Linked DNA regions of Homo sapiens: region 1 is linked to region 2. The links come from fine-mapping of genetic effects on gene expression. A gene starts in region 2. The other region holds a variant in brackets. All regions are shown on one strand. Distances are between the middles of the regions. Region 1 has its middle 22 kb from the start of ATP5MC3. Region 2 holds the start of ATF2 (activating transcription factor 2).

What was found. PIP is the estimated chance that this variant, and not a neighbour inherited with it, causes the effect. A credible set is the group of variants that fine-mapping cannot tell apart.
Region 1: its variant is the best candidate, but not a certain one, in a credible set for the expression of ATF2 in whole blood (INTERVAL, PIP 0.83).

Annotation. Positions count from the first base shown.
Region 1 is chr2:175,202,232-175,205,152 of GRCh38, forward strand. No RefSeq gene overlaps it. Among named protein-coding and RNA genes, the nearest start is that of ATP5MC3, 22 kb to the left of the region's middle. RefSeq lists a silencer at 1,537-1,676. The variant C/T (reference allele first, on the strand shown) is at 1,483.
Region 2 is chr2:175,166,896-175,169,816 of GRCh38, forward strand. ATF2 (activating transcription factor 2) reads right to left here and starts at 1,308. Exons shown (of 14, transcript NM_001880.4): 1 at 1,155-1,308. MIR933 (microRNA 933) reads right to left here and starts at 814; the gene lies at 738-814. RefSeq lists a silencer at 1,257-1,326.

The sequences.
Region 1 (2,921 bases), 35 kb after region 2:
AGTTTTTCCTTTTATTTACTAGTTTTCAGAATAATGAGCCATATATAATTTTAAACCATCAAGTAATTAGTGTAGGGTGATTATCTCATAGAGTAAGAGTGGATGACGTGTCCCTAAGGGAATTTGGATGATTTTCTGTCTTTGAAAGAAACCTGGACTAGGTAATCTCTATGGTTCCTTTGAGCTCTTGAAGTTCATAATTTTTCTTGCTCATGAAAACCATTTATGTTTTAATTCTCAATTTTCAAAAAGAATTAGTTGATATATTTCAATGTTATTTAGAGAGCAGACATTCATTTAACATTTAACAGATATTATTTGCTAAAGAATTTGCAAAAATTTTGTGTGTTTTCTCAAAGTTCTGGATAGTTAGCTAATTTTTTTCAGGGGCTACTTCACTACCTTTTACATTTCTTTATGTACATTTTAAACGTAGGTTTTTAAACTTAAAATTTTAAACCATGAAAAGTTGCAAGTATGCTGAGAATTCCTATTTATTTTTTATGCAGATTCAATAAATTTTGCCATTTTCCATAATTTTTAATACTCTCTCTGACTGTGTGCATGCATGCACACACACACGTATGGTATTAACTGTATACATAAACATCTATGTGTCTATCATCTATACACATTTGCACAAAGACATTTTATAGATATTTTAATTACTTTTCTAAGCCATTGGAAAGTAGGTTGCCTGCATTATGCCCCTTAATATTTCTGTGCATATTTTCTCAAAACAAGAAGGTTCTCTTACATAGCCACAGTATAGTTATCAAATTCAGGAAATTTAACATTGATATAAAACTTTTACCTAGTCTGCAGTTCATAGTCCAATTTCATCAATTGTTCCAGTAAGGTTCTTTATAGAATTTTTCCCCTCTAATGTGGGCCCAGCCACATTGACATTTTTGAAGAATACAGGTCAACTGCATACTTTTTCCTGGCTATGATCATATATATTTCCCAGTTATTAGTTGTAAATAATAGAAATTGCCTGTGGCTGATTTAAGTAGGAAAGGGATTTATTGAAAAGGTATTGAGGACCTCCTAGAATTTTAATATATCAGTATATCTCAATAAATATTTTTTACAAACAATAATAAATTATATTTATTGAGCACTTACAATGTGCTGCACACTGATCATATTACGTTATTGCCTTATCCAGTAAATAACCCTACGAGGTAAATTTCCTTTCCAATACTCCTGAATTTATTTTAGAAATGAGACAACTATAGATTAGGAAAGTAAAATGAATTTCCCAAGGCCACACAGCTAGTAAGGTGCTGAGCCAGTGTTCAAAGTCAAGTTTTGTCTGACACTAAACTCCATTCTTTTTCTACTCCATATTTTAATGGCAGCATAACTTGAAAACATTTCTGAAAGACATTTGCTAGAAAATAAATGATCTGTGGTAGACTGAAACATTAAATATTGCTTCAGTTGATATTATGAGAGATGTATATTGTAAAACATACA[C/T]GCGTTTTAGCTTTTCTCCATCTTTAAAATCACTTCACAGACATGACCGAATGCTAGAGGAGCTGGCGAGAAAATCCTCAGCGTGCACATCAAATTGTACCCACTTGGGGGCACCCACAATGCAGCTTTTCTGCCTGTTCTGCCTAGAAGCTTCGAGCCCTGCAGAGGTGGATTGAGCCAGCTGCTCTACAGGACTCGGACAGCCCGATCTGATATCTCAAGAAATAGTGCCCTATATCTCCAAGTTTAGGGGATATTTTACTTAGTTTGTTGCCCACATGATAAACTATTTTCTGCAGTTTAAAACATCAATAATTAATACAATTGCTACAGGCCAAACGTGCTAGATATATGTTAGGATTTAATGACCAAGAACTAAAAATAATTTGCTGACTTAAAATGATACGTTTGTCCAGAGGATTTTTTTTGGATTTACGCTATGCCAAAATTAGGAACATAATGATTAACCAATAGGGGTAAAAAATGTGCTGTAAAATCAAGCTAAGTGTTTTAAAATAGTTTTGCATTGTGGTCTCACCTGAAACATGCTCTTTGGTAGGGACATGTGTTGGCGATCTCCAGTGCTGCTGCTGATGTAATCTCCAGGCCAGCCATTTGGTCTTTAGCTCTATTTGATAGTAGAGATCCTCCTGATATATACAAATGTCTAAGATGCCACTGAACCCAGATGTAGTTGCTGTGGCTTTGCCTAGAGAGGGGTTATTATTCCAGAGCATAAGGAGAGAAGATACAGCAAACAAGATTGTACTGGATGGGGCTATCACAGTCTTTCATATCCACCACTGCTGCTAAAGAGGCAGTTGAAGGTGGCCATATTTTAAACCATATAAATCCACCTTTAATATGGCTGCTTAGACCAGAGGGAGCCAAAGTATGATGGGAGAGCAGCTCATGGGGTGATTTAGCTTAAAAAACTGTTCAAAGAGGAACAAGTTGGACCAATTATATGCTTACCTATGAGAATCTGATTCGGGATACAGAATATGAGGGGACTCATAGTAGAAACTGATATGAAATAATGTATAGTGGGGGTATAATGTAGAATAGAGGCCAAGAGCACAGCCAGATTATGAGGAAACTAAGCCTTGCAGAAGGTGAGACAATAACTAAGCTTAAGCTACTAGAAAAAGAAAAGATGAAGAGGAATTCAGTCTTTTTTTTTTCTTTTTCTTTTTATTATACTTTAAGTTTTAGGGTACATGTGCACATTGTGCAGGTTAGTTACATACGGTTTAGCTAGAAGATATGTGAAGAGAAGCAGGGACAAGAGGAGGCTGAGCAGTGTTTCTGGTGGAGCTCTTGAGGGAAGGCTCACAGTTCTTGCTCCTGAGGGTTCTTGGTACAGTCCCAGTTTCTGTTCCATTTCTGGTCCCTGCTCATTGATCACCATGAGATCCTGGCTTCCATCTTAAGTCTTG
Region 2 (2,921 bases):
AGTCAATCCCTTAGTACCAGTTAAATAATAGCCAGGAAAGCATTAGAAAACCTGAAGGTACATGTAAAGAAATGCTTTACATCACTATTTAAAATAGGTGTTGAATTTTAAGAGAAACATTTCTTTCACTAAAATTTCTGATGCCTAAGGTCCATCAGGAGTAATCTCTTTTACTCCATGATATTCACAGTAGTTTTGCTCTTGGCCTCACCAGTTTTAAGACTCTCCATTAAAGAAAGCCAATTTTATACTACCTAGGGGCACAAAAATAGTTCCCAGCTCCTCCTCTCTTTTTCCTCCTAGGTTCGGTTAAACGAGCGAACATAGAAAACACGTACACACACTCCCTTTCGGCCCTGGTCCCTAGGGCATTGATGAAAAGCAAATTATTTCTTTACATACGCTCTGCTGTCCACCCAGAGATTTAAAAAAAAAAAAATAAGGGAAAATACCAGAATCAGTCTGCACCCACACCTAAGCCCCGCCCCACCGGGAAAAAGCTGGGGGTAGCGGGATTGTGAGGGTGGCGGAAAGGACGGAAAAGGCCGAGACTTCCAGCTCCTAGGTTCTCCACACCATTCTTTCCTTCAAGCTGCACCGCAGCCAGGGACCCTGATTCTATTTTCAGCCGCGCCTCCCGATCCTCCTCCCCGCCACCATCACCAATACACGGTCCTCAATCGCTTGAATACTGGGTGGGGAGACCAGAGTGGGCCCTCTCCCCGCCCAACCCAAGGACTGTGGGTGGGAGAGGTCTCCCTGCGCACACGGCTGACTCGACGCGCGCCCCGAGGACCTCTGAACTGACCCAAGTAGGGTGAAGATAATTCGGAGGGAGGGGTCTAAGAGGGAGCCGTTATTCCTTTTTCCTCTGCCTTAGGAAAGCGCGCGAGAGGGAGGGGCCGGAACAACGAACGCTGGTTACCTAACGGTCCGGCCCAGCCAGTCAGGTTCCCAAAGCCCACACCGCGCGGGCCGCCGAGGTGGCAGCACAGCCACAATCGCCCCAAGGGCTAAGGAGCACGTCAGGAGCACCCGAGGTGATGGGAAACGGGGGGTGGGGACTGTGCTGAGCGACGTCGCCATGTTAGCGCCTTCTTTCTCCGTATCCCTACAGTCTCCAGCCCTGCTGACCTCTGCCCATCGTTACTCACCTTTCCAGGTCACTAGTTCATGATCCTTTCGGTCACCCGCGAGCCCTGAGCACAGCCGTGTTTACAAAGCACCCCTGGAGGAAAAGGCTGAACGGCACTTTAAAGGCCACGGGCTCCCACAGGCTTCCGTCCTCTCTCGCGAGATCGGACTGACAACCCCCGCCCGCTCGCCCCGCTCCCGGCATCCCCACCTTCCTTCTGGCGCCCCTCCCCTTCACCCACACGCCCCTTCTTGCCTTCCTTCTGAGGGAGCGCCTCCGAGTCAGGTGATTCCGTCAGGCTTAAGGAGAAGAAGGCGGGTCTTCGGCAGGGCGGGTAGAGGGGACGGGCATCAAAGAGCACTCGGGCGCTCATGATTGGACAAGGAGCCCGAAGGGCGGGAAGCAGTTCTGGAGGGGGCGGGACCAGAGGGCCCAAGGAGCGTTACTTCTGTAAACCCGGAGCTGTGGAAGACTGTGATTGGCTGTCGGCTGGAGGAGGGCGCGGGTGCAGGCGGCGGTGAAGGGCTAGGCAGGGCTTTGGCGGTGTGAGGGGAGGAAAGGTGGTGAGCTCCGGAAAGGCTGCTAGAGGGAAAGCAGGATGGGTCCTCCGAGCCCAGCCCCAGGAGCCGGGTGTCTCCGTTTCCGTCACTTCCCAGCACTAGGTAGGGAGGTGGGTAAAAGTAGGCTGCGTTCCTCAGCCCACCCCTTGGCTCCCCGGGAGCCTGAGGCGGGGAGCTTCGGGTTAGGTGAGGTTTGGGGGAGGCGGAGTTTGCTGGTAATTGCCCATCCCTCCCCTCCAAAAAACCCCACACAACTTAAAGATTTTAATATTAACTGTAAGGATGTTGGTTATTCAATAAATAGGCACAAGTTGAAAAGTATGATCAGAGGCCTCTGTGAGAATTTACATTATTCAATAAAAGATTTTCAGTGTCTTATTTTTTCCATTTATTAAATACTGATTTCTAGTCTGGAACAAAATTATGAACTAGTTTATATATTAACATAAAATACACTCTCAAAATTGTTGAAAGGTTTTGGGGGATAGTATGAGAGTTAATGAGCCTGAAGTTCAAGAATGATATCTGGCATAAAAGTGAAATTGTAATGGCATTGACATTTTAACAGGTAGGTCTCTGGACCGCATACATGTGTATAAGCCAACTCAGTCCTCTTTTAAAACTAATTTTAGTTAAGAAACATTAAGCCAAATTATTAACACTTTCCTACTTAAAATGAAAGTACCGTCCCCATATAGTAACAGTAATGTAGTAGTGCCATTGTAGTGTAACACTAATTATGTCAGCAAAACCTCACAGTTCAGATTACTCATGATGGAAATGGTGGACAAAATGTTTGATTGACATCACAATTGTTAGGTCTAGAACGCATTGATTAAATAGATGCTTCTCTCTCCATCTCCCAAAACAACTAATGTGAGAAAAAGAACTGCAAATGTTACGACATTTCAAAAGAAGTTTGGGTCAATTAGAATAGATTTTTTTAAAAAAATTGTTTTTCCATTTGAAATTTTTTCCAGTGTTGATTCAATTGGGCAGTAGCTTTGGTTTTAAATTTCTCATTGCTACTTCTCCAGTCTGTTGTCAAGCAGTTAGTTATCTACATGATGCATTCGAGAAACACATTATTTTAAAGAAAGTCTTTCAGTTCTTTTTAGACAAGAGAAGAACTGTTTAGTGATATGAACAGTACTCTGATCTGTTTTGATAATTCAGTTTTAGCTAATTTTCTAAAGAGAGGGTATACCTAAAGTGAGAAAAAAAAA